Regions from separate parts of the Homo sapiens genome. Here region 1 is linked to region 2. The links come from fine-mapping of genetic effects on gene expression. Tissue or cell type: esophagus mucosa. Region 2 holds a variant in brackets; the other region holds the start of a gene. All regions are shown on one strand. Distances are between the middles of the regions.

Region 1 (8,296 bases), 160 kb after region 2:
ATGAGATTATGTTCTTTGCATACAAACACTAGTCTTTACCATTCCTTTGTTTGCCACATAATTAGTAATAAGGGTAGGCACAAAGAGGAGAGATTCCATAAATATTTGTTGGCATGATGTGAATATAAATAACCATTTAAGAATATGAAAAAGAACGTTTCAAGTCCTTATTTTGTACTGTAAGATTTTTTTAATGACATTTCATGGTCTAACCATGTCTACTTGTATGTTTTATTCAATACCTAGCCAATTTTGGCTACTTATTTAACTGTCACTCTAACAATAACAATAACTTATGTGTTCTCATTTCTGCTATATTTTAAGGTTTCAGAGTTTATTACACACACACACACACACACACACACACACACACGCAACAGACCAACAGTTACAGGTAACAAGTCTCACAGCGTCAAGTCAACATGCTTGCCAAATACCATCTCACCTTTTGAAATACAATTAGTGATTCTCTGATGAGGGGGATAGTGTCTTAATAATCTTTGTGTCTTAATAATCTTTCCATTTTGTGTCTTAACAATCTTTCCACTTTGTCCTTTTCATGACCATTCCTCAATGATTAATTTATCATTGTCTTACTTTTTCTTTTTTTAAATCCTTAAGGCTGTTACTGCCAACACTATTTTATTGCCAATACTATTGTATTTACTTAAAGCTGAGCTTATAAAGACTCTCACTCTATTAACCCAGCTGTGGCAAATGGCATTAAGGTACCACGTTTCTGATTCACTGTGCTACTGACAATCATCACTGGTCTGTTATATTGGCTTTAGGATCTAGGCTGCAGCTATACTTCACCATAAATTAAATAGCTGAATGACAAACAATCCTTTCAGCAGCATGTTCCATCACAATGGAAGGAGGGAGAAGGAGTAAGTAACCACAAAGAAAAGCATGGTCCCCCAGGAGGAAAGCAGCCCCAGAGCTGGCAGGGAAGAGGGTAAGTAGGCTGGGGTCAAAATAGCTAAATTACTGGAAACTAAATACCAGTAAAAAGTACTTTACCATCCCTGAAGACCACACCTAAGTTCTACATACTGAGCCCAGGAGCTTCAGTCTCTACAAATTAGTGATGTAGACAAATGAAGATATCCGTGCTTATCACCCCTAGCATATCATCTCATCCCTGGTAAAAGGAGATGGACTTGAAGATTTAAAAACAGGCTTCTTCGAGTTCCAGTTCTACCTTAGGCAAATCACTGAAACTCAAGTTTTCTTGTTGCAAAGTAGAAATAATAATGCTGGTTATATTTTTTCAAAGGGTGGAGAACACACACAAAAGTGATAATAGACATAAAAGCAGTTTGAAACAAAAGTAAATTATCATGCAATAGAAGACATACTAGCATGCTACTGACATGCATTCCTGTCAAATACAGAAATGTGAGCAATTTGGAGCATCTGTAACATCAGCCACAAATGGAGTAGCATTTTTTTCCCCAAGGTACTTTCATGGAGCTTCTCCTTTCAGCTTTATCATGTAGACAATGTGACCTGAGAGGGTTCTGCTGTCTGCAGAATCCTATCCTGATGAATCTTGATCAACAAACTCTTCTCCATCCATCAGACAGTTTATTTCAGTGACCCAATTGGACATATCATTTCTGGTTTTTGTGGTACACAAATGTAGCCATTTGCTTGGCTAGATCTCTAAGTAGCTGACATTTAAAGGGAAGCTGAAACTAGCTTCAGATACTTCTCTTATAATCACCAAGTAAACACAATATGGAAAAATAAGATTGACCTCACATCTTGCTTAGGGAATGAGTTTTCATTTTACAAAAATTAAAAGCAGTTTCCCTCTGCATAGACAGCTTCCCTATGTGAGAAGTTTTTTAAGTTCAATTAACAAAAATACAATTCCATACACCACTTTTCAGACAAACATCTACAGAATAAAGGGCAAAGGACACCTTTAGGTGGGGAGTGGACATTTTCCACAGCAGATAAACCCGTTTTCCTCATTTTGATTCTACACTTATATTTAGCATCGAACCATTTCCGTAATACCAAATTATAATATTGTAAAGGTCTGGCAGGAAACTCCGGAATATGTAGTAAGAAGCCTCCCATGAAAACAAAGACAAATTCACATCTCTCTAATTGGCTCCGTTGCTGTAGCTACCTTAGACTTGGTGAGCCTTGGGAGTTTCTATGAATAAACTCAACTAATATCAAATCTGTCTGCTGCACAAGTGCTCGGTTCATTATTGTGACAAATACAAAAAAAAAACCACTTTATTCATAAGAGCAAGTCAGAGTACCTTTAAACCTCTGTGTGTAAAAGAAGCAATGTTCTGATACTGTGAAACCTTAGCCGGTTGTGTGTTTCAATAGATGCTACTGTGGGGTTCTACTGGCATACGTGCCGAAGTCAGTCAATGACTGTAGATGCTTGGCTAAAAGGAGACTCCCTGGAGCCCAACAGCATCACTTGTGATCAAGGAAATACACCAAAATAAAGAGAAGGCATGTGAATTCTGACCACTCAAGAATTTTTGCCCTTTGGAGAAGAGATCCTTCAGAACCCTAGGGATGGTTTTGTGAACCACTCCCCACTCCCCCTCAAGTTTCAAACTAAAACTTCCAAAGAAAGAAGGCAGACACTTTAAAGCAGCCATCTCTCCTCTCTTCCACATCAGTTCTGCACTGAAATTGGATGCCAAGTGCTAGGCGGATCCTCGGGATCATCTCATCTTTGAGAACCCAAACTCTTAAGGGTCCTGTTTTGTTCACTCCTGCTTGCCTCCTCGCCAGCCAAGGTTCTACATGTTTGGAATCTACACAAGTCAGATTCTGTCAGTGACCACGAGGCACATGAGACATTTGGGCACCTCCGGCAGCACCTCCCAACTATTCCGGAGTCTCAAGCAGAGCCTCGCCTCCCCCAGGTCTAACCCGCAGGCCCTCTTTCTAATTAAGTGACCTTTCCAAGGAGCGTCCTCCAGCCGCGTCCTGGGGGACGAGTCAGGGGCTGAGCAAGGAGGCTCGACATCTCTGCGCTAAACACTCAACTGTTTGTTTTCTGCAAAGTGGCAGGACATATTTCGGTGGTGACCGCAGCAACGATTCGCTCCTCGATTGTTAGGCTCTGAGTGGCATTGGGGACACTGCGATCGACGGTTTGAAAGGAGTAAACCGTTGTTTTCGGGAACTTCTCTCTCACTGCTGTGGGATTGCGAGCGGAGGGAGAAAGAGAAAGAAAAGCCCACACAAAAGCAGCCAGCCCTGCAAGCTCCGCCAGCACAAAGGCCGGCTCGCTGGTGCGGAGCTGGGAGGCTGGGCTGGAGCTAGGAGTGCGGTGAGTCCTCCGAGGCCTGCGCGCCGCGCCCAGCGCGCCCAGAGCTGCCCCCGCGCACCCCACACCTGGGCACCGCGCTCCGGAGGAGGATCGGGGCGCACGCCTGGCGCACCCAGGGCTGCAACGCTCCCGGGACTGTTACGCTCGCGGAGCGACCCCACGCCACTGAGGCTCCGGTTCCGTCCCTGCCCCGGCGCCACGTCTGCAGCCGCGGCCGCCCAAGTGGCCGGAGCCGGGCCCGTCCTCACCTGTGCGCCTTCAGCTGAGCAGCGCGCGGAGGACAGAGGCAGCGGCGGCGCGGGCGCTCGGCATCCCAGCGGCGGGCCCTGCGGCGGCGGCGGCGGTAGCGGCGGCGACTCCCTCCGCTGTCTGGGACGCTAGGGGGAGGGCGCTTCGCTTTGTTGCTTATTCATAAGGCCGCGGCTACGGCCGGGGATTGGGCGGTGAGTAGGTGTGCCCGCCCTGGCTCTGCTGGCACTGACAGCCGACGCCGTCGCCCACGCCCCCCTGCGCCCACTTCCCCGCCTCCGCTCTCCCGCGGGGGCGGCTTCTGCTGGAGTCCCGGCACCTGGGACCCCTCGGAGATCCCGTGCTCCGCTTCCCCTCTTTAAGCGGGAGCTTCTGCGGCAGCTCGCCTCCCTATCTACGCGGAAGAGACCAGGGCACCGTTTACACGAGAAAAACCTCAATTTTGCTGTCTTTGGTTCAGGCAAGGAGCGCAAATCTGAGACTGCAGTGTTCCTTGTGGAAACTATGGACGGCTTGGCGGTGCCCTTAAGTAGGACCCTTAAAGTAACTCTACACAGAATGTCCCTTCTCAGTCCGTCGGAGAAGTTGCAAACTAGTGCTAGTCACAAGTAAGGTTTATTGAGCCCTTACTCCTGCCAGGCACAAGAGTAGATGCTTTGCCCATTACTTTACCTGCTTAATCTGCACGATAGAAGGGTAGATATTGTAGTTCTCATTTACCAGGGTAGGAGGTTAAGGCTAAGGGCTGTGTAACTTCTCCAAGGTCATCCGGCTCGCGTGGCCACCGGGAATTTGTGTCCTCCATTCTTGAGCCTCTCAAGGACTGTTTTCTTTTTCTGTTACTTCTAATGGTGTGGAAAGAGGTGTCGGAATCTAAAGGCCCGTTTTGGAACAACCTCCACAACGCAGCATTTTACATTTGCAGAGCACTCTTCACATTTGTCCCTTATTGTGCTTATTAGCTCCCTTCTTCATAATACCTTAGTCCCCTTTTGTAGTTAATTATAAACACCTTGAAGTCAGAGCAAAAGCTGGCTCACCTTTGACCCCCACACCTAACACAATGCACAGGTATGTACTGGTTTCTGTTTGTTTGTTTGTTTGTTTTTGAGACAGGATCTCACTCTTTCCCCCAGGCTGGAGTGCAGTGGCGCCATCATGGCTCACTGCAGCCTCGACCTCCTCCTGGGACCTCAAGCCATCACCCACCTCAGCCTCCTAAGTAGCTGGGACCACAGGCATGCGGCACCACGACTGGCTAATTTTTTATTATTATTATTATTATTATTATTATTATTATTATTATTATTATTGGTAAAGATGGGGTCTTCCTATCTTGCCCTGGCTAGTTTCAAACTCCTGGACTCAAGCGATCCTCCTGCCTCGGTCTACCGAAGTGTTTGAATTATAGACATGTGCCACGGTGCCCAGCAGGTATGCACTGTTACCCATTCCCCCTCCCTTTAGAAATTATTATCTATGTATAATCATGCATTGATTAATTAGGGGAATACATTCTAAGAAATGTATCCTTAGGCAATTTTGTTGTTATGCGAGCATAATAGTATACTTACACAAACCTAGATGGCATAGCCTACTACGTACCAAGGCTATATGGTATAGCCTATTGCTCCTAGGCTACAAGCCTGTACAGCATGTTACTGTACTCAGTACTGTAGGCAATTGTAACACAATGGTATTTCTATATCTAAACATTGAAACAATACAGTAAAAATACAGTATAAAAGATAAAAAATGGTGCATCTGTATAGAGCACTTACCATAAATGGAGCTTATAGGACTGGAAGTTGCTCTGGGTGAGTCAACGAATGATGAGTGAGAATATGAAGACCTAGGACATAACTGTACACTACTGTAATGTACGTAACCTTACACTACTGACATAACTGTATACTATTGTACATAACTACACTACTGTAGTTATGTAGGCTATAACTGTATGCTACACTACTACTGTAGTGTAAACAATGTACACTTAGGCTGTACTGTAGACATAAACATTTTTTCTTCAATAATAAATTAACCATAGCTTACCTGAATTTTTTACTTTATAAATTTTTTTTAACTTTTGACTCTTTTTTTCTTTGAGACAGGGTCTCACTCTGTCACCCAGGCTGGAGTCCAGTGGTACAATCACAGTTCACTGCAGCCTGGACCTCCTAACCTCAAGCAATCCTCCTGCCTCAGCCTCCCCAGTAGTTGGGACTACGGGCACATGCCACCACGGCTGGGTAACTTTTGACTCTTTTGTAATAACACAGCTTAAAACACAAACATATTGTACAGCTGTTCAAAAATATTTCATTTCTTTATTTCCTTATTCTATAAGCCTTTTTCTATTTAAAAAACAAAATTTTAAAAGGCCAGGTGGGTCATGTCTGTAATATCAGCACTTTGGTAGGCTGAGGCGGGTGGATCACCTGAGGTCAGGAGTTCGAGACCAACCTGGCCAACATTGCAAAACCCTGTCTCTACTAAAAATACAAAAATTAGCCAGACATGGTGGTGCGTGCCTGTAATCCCAGCTATTAGGGGGGCTGAGGCAGCAGGATCGCTTGAACCTGGGAGGCGGAGGTTGCAGTGAGCCAAGATCGTACCACTGCACTCCAGCCTGGGCAACAGAGCAAGACTCTGTCTCAAAAAAAAATTAAACTTTTTGGTTAAAAAACAAAACAGAAACACACACATTAGCCTGGGCCCATAAAGAGTCAGGATCATTATCACCATCTTTCACCTCCACATCTTGTCCTGCTTCAGGGGCTATAACACACATAGAACAGTCATCTCCTGTGATAACAAGGCCTTCTTCTGCAATACCTCCTGAAGGACCTGCCTGATGCTGTTTTACAGTTAACATTTTTATATACAAGTAGAAGTAGTATAATCTAATGATAAAAAGTACAGTACAGTAAACACATAAGCCAGAGTAGCATAGACATTTATTATTATCAAGTATTTACTGTACATTATTGTATGTGCTGTAATTTTATATGACCGGCAGTATGGTAGGTTTGTTTACACCAGCATCACCACACAAAGGAGAGTAATGCATTATGTTGCATCGTGCTAGGATATTCCGATGGCTACCATGTCACTAAGTGATAGAAACTTTTCAGCTTCATCATGATCTTATGGGACCATCATTTTATACGCAGTTTGTGGTTGACTGAAACATTATTATGGGTACATAAGGTACTTCCAGAATGTGATTGGATTGAATTGAATCTATGAAGTTTGTTTGTTTGTTTTTAGACAGGGTCATGCTCTGTCACTCAAGCTGGAATTCAGTGGCCCAATCACTGCTCATTGCAGCCTCGACCTCCCCAGGCTCAAGCAATCCTCCCACCTCAGCCTCCTGAGTAGCTGGGAGCACAGGCGTATACCACCACACCAAGCTTTTTTTTTTTTTTAATTTTTTGTAGAGACGAGGTTTTGCCATGTTGTCCAGGCTGGTATTGAACTCCTGCACTCAAGTTATCTGCCTGCCTTGACCTCCCAAAATGCTGGGATCATAGGTGTCAGCAACCACACCTGGCCTGAGATCTGCTTTTTGTATGTATTCAGTGCAATACATTGCACTGTGGCCAGGTCTTCTACCTGGATTCAGTACCCACCAGGTGGATGAGCCACACCCAGCCTGACCACGTTGTATTTCAGCATTTTATTTTTAAGTCAGTTGTTTGAAACTCAGACCACATCTTCTTGTAAAAACAATGTTATATAGTATGGCGGGGCTACTAGCTAGCCCACAATATTAAGTCTACTCAACCCAAATACAGGTAAATAATAGTACTAAAAAAAAACTAACCTGAATTCTGGGTGTTCTAACCAGATGGCCAGGCAGAAGAGAGACAGCAAGAGGAAGGAATTCCAGTTCTCCTCACATTTACACACAAATCTGAGACATTCAAAGTTTCTTCTTTTTTTTTTTTTTTTTTTTTGAGACAGAGTCTTGCTGTGTCGCCCAGGCTGGAGTGCAGTGGCGCAATCTCAGCTCGCTGCAAGCTCCGCCTCCCGAGTTCACGCCATTCTCCTGCCTCAGCCTCCCAAGTAGCTGGGACCACAGGCGCCTGCCACCTACTCCTGGCTAATTTTTTGTATTTTTAGTAGAGACGGGGTTTCACCGTGTTAGCCAGGATGGTCTCGATCTCCTGACCTCGTGATCCACCCACCTCGGCCTCCCAAAGTGCTGGGATTACAGGCGTGAGCCATCGCGCCCGGCCAAGACATTCAAAGTTTCTTTGACATCTTCCTGCCTCCTTTTCAGTATCCCTTTCTAACATCCTACTCTTCTTAGAGACTCAGTAGCCACATGATAATCTAAGTTCCAAGTACAGAATTCTAGTTCCAGACCTGAGTTAGACTCAAAATTTTCCATTCTTCAAAATTACCCTTCTCTCATAGCAAAATTCCTGTCTCCCATTTCCTCAATATAAATTATTTCAGATGTGCAGTAAAAGTAAAGTGATCTTATTGGAACTCATTTATACTAGTCCTGTATCCTTCCAAAAATGGTTTGTACTGCTTTCAACAACTCTGGTTTATACAATTTATCTCAACATCTGCTGTTGATACATGGCAGTGGTCATAAGATTTACTCTTCTCTTCCCTCAACACACACACACACAAATTGTGGGTTAAGGAAAGTTGTACTGTGCAAGCCAAATAAGTAAATCCACATACAATGAATGTTATTAACCTTTTACA
Region 2 (8,296 bases):
AGTAAAAATCCAATATGGAATTTCTGTAATGGTTTCATCTATATAAAAACCAGGTCGTCATCTGAGCAGAGACCCGAAGGGAACAAGAAGAAATGTAATATTCACATTATAGGAGTAGCAGGGTGGTAAAGATGATTTCCTCTGTGTCTTCTTTTCCTATTATATAGTTATTTCCTATTGTATAATTTTTTCCATTACCTTTAATGGCAAAAACCGCAATTACTTTTGCACCAACCTAATAGCAGCTATAACATTAAGAATAATTTGGCCGGGCACGGTGGCTCACAGCTGTAATCCCAGCACTTTGGGAGGCCGAGGCGGGCGGATCACTAGGTCAGGAGTTCAAGACCATCCTGGCCAACATGCTGAAACCCCGTCTCTACTAAAAATACAAAAATTAGCTGGGCGTGGTGGCGCACCTGTAGTCCCAGCTACTCCGGCGGCTGAGGCAGGAGAATCGCTTGAACCCCAGGAGGCGGAGGTTGCAGTGAGCCGAGATTGTGCCACTGTACTCCAGCTTGGGCAACAGAGCAAGACTCCGTCTCAAAAAGAAAAGAATAATTTAACTGGATGAAGAACTCTTGAACACTAGCCATTTCAAAAGAAAAGAATCCAATCTATGCAGTGGGAATACGCCTTGCAGCAGACTCTCCAGGCTCCTTCTGGGCCAAGGAAGCTTCATCTTCCCCATTCAGCAAGAGCCAGAGGATTGGGTCTTGGGCTGACATATTGACAGTGTGATTGTAACAGGATCACAGTATCTCCACTGTATGACCAGATGAGGACCCCCAGCTTGCTCCTGCCTGCTCTCTCAGAGCCATCTCTCTCAAGGCCATCACACAGAGAGAAGGACTGAGCTCTCCTTGACCTCGTTCCTTCTGGGACCCTGGCAGAGTGATTACTTTCTCTTACCTTGGGAAACACGGTTAATCAGTCAAAACCTTGTCGGGCTGAATCCTACTAAACGTGACAAATTCTATTTCTTGGATCATGCTACATTTTAAAGCAAACTGTAGTTGCTATCCGAACGCTGGCCTTGACTCTATCTTGGGGTGAGAAGAGCAGCTGAAACCTCTGTGACCTTTTCCACACAGAACTTTGTGGGCTGGGAGAGGCTTTGTGCACTTCCACAGACATCTCTGTATTTTAGGTTCTTTAAAAAAGCAGATAATAAATAGTAGCTAATGGGTTGAAATGCTTCCTATGTCCCAGGAGCTGTGCTGAGCAACATCATACATGATTTTGTTTAATCTCTCCCTATGACCTTCATGCCATCCCCATGACATCTACTCCAACTCCTACATAACTTCCGATTGCTGAGCTCTGGGGGAGAAGGTGCAACAATTACCCCCACTTCACAGATAAACGAAGAGGAGTTTTGATAAAGAAATCTAGCCAGGCACAGTGGCTCACGCCTGTAGTTTCAACACTTTGGGAGGCCCTGGTGGGAGGATTGCTTGAGCCCAGGAGTTTGAGACCAGCTTGGGCAACACAGTCAGACCCCATCTCTACAAAAAAATAGAAAATAATTAGCCAGGTGTGGTAGTATGCACCTGTAGGCCCAGCTACTCCAGAGGCCAAGGTAGGAGAATTGCTTGAGCCCAGGAGTTCCAGGCTGCAGTGACCCGTGATCACACCACTGCTCTCCAGCCGGCGCATCAAAGTGAGATCCTGTCTAAAAAAGAAAAGAAAGAAAAGAAAAAATTGCCCAGGGTCACATTAAGTGACAAACCAGGATGGGAAACCAGGCCTTTGCACTCCAAAGCCTGCTCTCTTAATCACTATGCATATATTGTCTCAAGCAAAAAAGAAGTCCTGTGGTTGATATTTGGGAGATTTAAACTAAAGTTTTCTTTTTCTGTTGTTTATTTTAACTTCCCAATACTCTAAATCTGGAAGGGATCAAGAGATTATTTTCTACATAGGCTTTCATTAAAGAGGAAACTGTCATCTCTGGGCCCTTGAGTCAATCTCAGCTCCAAGAGAATTATGAGTGGCCAGGTCAGGTTATGGGCCCAGTCTTGGGATGGTGAGGCTGGCAGGAGATTATCAATAGAAAAGGAAGGTGAGAAAAACTGTTCGTGGCAGAAGCCATTGTTGCCTGAATCTGTGGTCCCAATCTCCATGCACACGCTCATTTCTCATTCCTCAGGGAAGGAAAGTGATTCCCCATCACCCACCAGGACCATGGGATGCTCACCCTAAAGAATTTCAGTCTATAAATAAAGCTGGTCATGTCCATCAGACAGGCTAAGCCTTCATCTATCTTGACATATCGAACATCAACAAGGCCAAAAACAAGAGTGAGGAAGAAGAGAGAGTGCTGCTGTCACCTCCTCTGACTCAGGGTCTTACTCACTGGTTGTGACTGCAAGTCCATATGTGTGACCAGACCCAAGCCTAACTGGATTCTTCTGCAATGAGGAGCCTCTCAGCCTAAGAGTGGAGCAATGCTCTGCCTGTAGGCCTCTTGGAGTCAGGATTACAGTCCATAAAAGAGGTGTCCCTTCCTGCAGGCCAAGTAGTCACCTGTAATGTAATAATAACAGTGGCCATAATGGAGCATGTGCCATGGACCAGACACTGTGCTCAGGACTTTACATGCACCATCTCATTTAATGTTTACAACAGCCCTACGAGGGAAATGCCATTACTGTTAGCATTCCCATTTTACAGACAAGAACACAGAGGCTTATTGGATTTGGGGTGGTAATACTGAATTTGACTGTGATATGTGTTCTGCTCATTTCTTAGTACTGCTTTGTGTTCCCAGGAGACTGGCCTCTGTGACTGCATCAGTAGGGCCTTTTTGCCCTGTGGTTCCAGTTGAGTTGGGCTAATGGGAGGCAGTGGCTTGAGCTGCAAAGTCAGAAGAGAGGTGTGGCCATTTATCCCTCCTCCTCCCTCCCTGTTGGGCCGGTTTTACCACTGGCTGTATTCCTCCTCTTCAGCCAAAGCTCCAGTTCTGTGGGCCCCTCCTACACGACAGCTCTCCCTAGGTTCAGGTAACCCTGTTCCTGCCCCTTTTGTCCCTGAAGGCAGAAAGGTGACAATGGCTTCCCCTGCTATTAGTCCCTGGGGACTTCACAATCCCTCGCTGGTTACTTTAACCTTCCCACACCCTTTGTTAAACTCTCTTCAGTAACATTATTTGAGTATATCATCTCTTTCCTGCCAGGACCCTTGGCTGAGGCAGAAACTGAATTTCTTGCTCCAGTTAGCACAGCTAAATATGGTAAAGCTGGGATTAGGAATCTTGGCAGTCAGACTCCAGAACCCACATTTTACATCACTATCTACATTGGTTAAAGCACCAAATAAGGCCACCAATGACACAGAAAGAGGAATCTAGCGCCTCATTTCAAATCCTCTGTCCTTTCTCAGATGCTACCATTTCGGCAAATAGGATCCACTGTCAGGGCCGAGTCCTGGGCCTCACTTTCTCCCGAGACTGTCAAGGTC[G/A]CCCCCATTCTCCCAGAATAGCCAGGGCCACTGTGAGAAGGACCTGTCCAGAGGCCCAGGAGCTTAGCAGGGAGACTTTCTCTAATTCAGGCCAGGCACATTCTCTCACTTGTCTTGCAGAGGCTAGCTGACCACAATCACCCCTACAGTGGGATCTAGATATTGTTATATGGCACTTAATCCAGAACAATGAAAGCAGAACCTCTAGGGGTGGGCCCTGGGCGGGTTAGTTCTAAACACTCTTCTAGTGTGTCTAGTGTGCAGCCATCTTTGGAACCATGGTACTAAACTGCAGGCAGCTGTTCAAATGTTACCTGTCATCATGACGTGTCCCTCCCAAGCCTGCGGTGAAACAGGTAGTAGCCTTTCCATCAGGAAAGGGGGTGGGGAGAGGAGGGGACAGTCATGTTTAAAAGTGATGGAATGTTTTATAGTATCTGAAGCTGATCCACAAGCGCTTCCAAGGCATGCTGCCTTAGGCACGAAGCAGCCACACAGCAGGCATATTCTATATGATAAGGTTTTTAAAATTTGGAGAGGGCTCAAGTCAGCTGAGTCAATGATATACTTGCTTCTATATCCAGCGTGCTCTCGATTAATAAATCCTTTGAAATGAGCCATATATAAACAAACTCAGATCCTAATAAATCACGCAAAGGTGAGCTCCTACTTGCCTGCCATTAGAACCACATCAAAATTTCCTCAGTGCACAGATTCCACGTGTCTCCTCCCAGTGAAGAAGATTTGAGTTTGAAAACGATCTCATGCTTTCTACTGCTATGCCTTCTTCTCTCTTGCCACCTCTGCCTTTTCTGTCTCTTCCACTAACTAGCTGTGGGACTAGAGCTAGTGAGGTCATCTTTCCAAGCTTTCCTTTCTTCATCTACTAAATCTGGTAGTCACTGGTTCTCAAAGTGTGACCCTGAGATGAGGAGCATCAGCATCACCTGCGAGCATGTCAGAAATGCAGATTCTCAAGCCCTACCCAGACCCACTGAATGAGAAACTCCGGGGTGGGGCTCAGCAATCTGTTATAGGAAGGCCTCCAGGTGATTTTAATGCACACTCAAGAACTATTGTTCCCAAATATCGTTATGAAGCTGTTCTCCACAACCTCCTTGTATGGTTTCCTTTCTTTGATGGCCAGTTTTCTTCCCAGGATGTCCAAAGCCCTCATTCTCTCTACCCCTCACTGAAACATGGTAAGTTCTGAAGACTTTTGCACCTGCAGTTCCTTCTGCCTTGAATGCTCTTCTCAATGGCTTCTTCACATCCCTCAGGTGACCTCAGGGTATGAAGTAGTTGGCTCCTAATATTGTCTACCCAGCAGACAATAGATTTGCATTGTAAGACTAAATTACCATCTATTATTATTTTATTTATTTGCATATTTTTGTCTCTCTCTTTCCCCTAAAATGTAAGTTCATGAAGTAGAGACCATATCTATTCATTTGCTGTATCCCCAGAACTTAACAATGTGTCCAGCATAGCCAGAACTGTTCATTAGCACTTTCTGTGAAGATGGAAATGTTCTATATCCACTTTGTCCAATATGGGAGCTACTAGCCATGTGTGGTGGCTATTTGGGCACTTGAAATGAATCTAGTATGACTAAGAAACTACATTTTAAATTTTAATTTAAATTAATTTAAATTTAAATAGCCATATGTAGCTACTTCCTACTGCACTGAACAGTGTGGCTCTAGACAAAAAAAAAAAAAAGCGTATTGAACAAATGAATAAATTCCTATCAAAAGCACTAAGAATGTGATTTTTTAAATTTGACATTGATTGGTAAATAATATTTTCATTAACTCTGATTCATACAATCATCTTGCCTGCAAAAAAAAAATTCTTTTTTACTCTACTTTTGGTAGGAACTTTTTTTTTTTTTTAAATAAAATGTTTTCAAGTTATAACCAGCATTCTGGTAAAAATTTTTAGCTGAGAAGTGGAATGGTAAAGGTAGAAACTAAAGTATATTAAATTAGCCTTCAAGGTAAAATCGAGTTCTTCTTTTTATAGGAGTTTTGGGATGGAGGGACCAGAAGGAATGATCCACGATCTCTTCCTACTTCTAATGGACTATTTTTACAGCCCTGGCAAGGCCGCCTATAAACTCTGGAACTGCTGGGGATGGAGGAAACTCTGTCTCCTCTTTAGCAGAAGAAATATGGTGAGGTGGAAGGGAAAGAATACAAGCAAAAGCACTTGGATTATAAGTCATCTTAGAAAGTTATTTAACCTCTGAGCCTCAACTTCCTGACATAGAAATTGAGGTAATAATGCCTACCTCACATGGCTAAGTATGTCAAGTGCTTGGCATGCAGAATGCATTAGTTCCCTTCTTTCATGGCCAAAATTTAACAAGTTCCAAGAGAAATCTATCTCCTGGGAAGGTTTTTTGGTCTCTCTGAAATACTCCCAGCCCTTATACTTTTTGAGCACAAGTCAACCTTCACTCAACCTTATCCTAACCCTGTTTTGCCTATTTTTCTGTCTTCTAAACTCTTAGATATATAATTTTACACTTGGGGGAATATTCATCGTTATCTTTGTTAGTAATGGATGATTTGACATAGTGTAATCCCTTTTATCAGATGTACTGGAATATATTCACAGCCCAAACTTCCTTTTCTTTAAAATAAAAGATAGGCTAAAAATGAGATCCAAGGATCCTTCCAGCTCTAAAATTGCTATATTCTCTGGTTATAGAGTTTCTAACAAGGAAGCATGTGGCCTAAATGTGTCACTTCATTATTAGAAATATCATAGTACTAAATTAAGCTCTGATGTCCCAAAATATCCCTGCACTTTAATACCAGATCACAGTTTCTTCCCTTGCTTTGTACCCTAGCCTAGCCTGTCTTCTTCTCTCTCTCTCTCTGTCTATCTTAGTTTGTATTCTCCCAAAAACAGAACCTGAGACAAAAGCTTAAACACAGTAGTTTGTTTGGAAATGTGATCTCAGGGACCAGGAGTATAGGATGGAGCTGGGAACAGTGAAGGAGGGAAAGGATTAGTGAGGATGCATTATCAAGGTGGCCACTGTTACAAGTGACTGGCTCCAACAGGATTTCTGAGAAACTTGATAAATCGCAACTCAAAACTGTCTGCCTGAAAGAGGAAAAGAGAGCAGTTATTCATCAATCCTCATCCCCCTTGATGGACAAGGGTGGCCTCACAGATATCAACTCCCTCGTACTTCTGAACTGTGCATGCCTTAGTATTGACGTGCTTCCCAAGGCATGGTGTCAGGACAGTCCAGCGTCAGAGAAGTGAGAAAGCCACAGCACAAGGCTAGTCTCTATCAGGCTGCACCCATGCAAAAGCTGATTGACACCTGCACAGACCTGGTAAACACAATAGTGGCATGAGCAAGAGGATCTGGAGTGGTGTACAGGGAGGTACAATCCATTTCTTGTGCTTGTTTTTTGTGCCCTTCTTTAAATTCAGTCTATCAGAGAATCCCTTTCATGGTGGTGGCCAGCCATAGTCTCTGCAAAGACTTAATTCAAGAGGGTTAGTGGAACAAGTTCCAGTTCTACTGTTCCAGCTGATCCCAAGATCATAATATTCTTCATCTCCCTCCTCCACTATCCACTTTAGACTTTTCTCACCCTTGCCTGATGTAGGCTCATTAACATCTTGCCTGATCTAGATTGCTTGCTTGGAGGGTGACCTTGAGTGTGAGAATGACAGCACAATCCACCAATGTGAGTCTCCTGATACACTTCCATACAGATCCTCTGGCTTTCATGACATGCCTTATGTTGCTAATTAACAAACCTGAGCCTGTCATTTTCTTCATTTGCTTTTTTCAAAGCCTCCAAAGCAGTCTAAACACACCAGCCAGCTCAATCCTTGTTATTACCATTGCTCCTGTACTATTTAAGGACCACGGCTATCACACCACCCAATGCTCTGCCTCTGCCTGCACCTCATCCCAATCCACCTCAGTAAGAGTCTTAGTAACTGAGATGGCGCTGGCCAGATACCACCACTCCACCCACCTCCAAAAATGGAGTCCTTATTACCTCTGAACAGTGAGTGATCTCACTCCAAAATCCCAATTATTGTAGCCTGAGTTCCCCTGAAAGCAGGACCTCAGACAAAGTCTTGCATGCAAGTAGCAGTGAAACAAGGAAAGAGAGAAGGCCAATACAAGGATGAATTTTCAAGGTAGCATTGCAATGGACAACCAGTGCTCAATCCTAAGGACTATTCTGAGAAGCCTCATGAAACGTATCTGAGAACCGGCCACATGAGCAACAAATGGTGGGAGGATTTATCCATCAGTTTCCATCCTCATTCGTTAAGGCCCACCAGGTTAGCCCCCCTAACATTTCCAGGTTGTACATGTGTGAGTGACAAGTGAAACCCCACAATAACCCACACCCTGGCAAACTGGTGGAAGCCTGTGCCAAACTAAATGCTACTTAGGTGACTGGAATAAAAGATAGGATTTGAAGTGTCTGTTACACTTCCTCTAAGAGGTGTCTGATACACTCCCTCTAAGATGTCCCTTAGGTTCCTATTTTCCCAGGATCATTCCAGTTTATGCCTGTTATCCCATTGTAATTAACAGTGTCCCCACTTTTTTGTTTTTGAGATAAGGTCTCATTCCATCACCCAGGCTGGAGTGCAGTGGCATGATCATGGCTCACTGCAGCCTTGACCTCCCAGGCTCAAGTGATCATCCCATCTTAACCTCCCAAGTATCTGGGTCCACAGAGGCACATCACCACATCTGGCTAATTTTTAATTTTTGGTAGACACAGGGTCTCCCTACATTGCCCAGGCTGGACTCAAACTCCTGGACTCAAGTGATCCA

Evidence for each region. PIP is the estimated chance that this variant, and not a neighbour inherited with it, causes the effect.
Region 1: it holds the start of ARMH4, and the variant in region 2 is fine-mapped to the expression of ARMH4 in esophagus mucosa (GTEx, PIP above 0.99).

Annotation. Positions count from the first base shown.
Region 1 is chr14:58,148,508-58,156,803 of GRCh38, forward strand. It overlaps ARMH4 (armadillo like helical domain containing 4), which reads right to left and starts at 3,706. Exons shown (of 8, transcript NM_001001872.4): 1 at 3,568-3,706. RefSeq lists silencers at 3,241-3,430, 3,531-3,750, 3,644-3,938, 3,831-3,900.
Region 2 is chr14:57,984,854-57,993,149 of GRCh38, forward strand. No RefSeq gene overlaps it. Among named protein-coding and RNA genes, the nearest start is that of SLC35F4, 120 kb to the left of the region's middle. The variant G/A (reference allele first, on the strand shown) is at 3,463.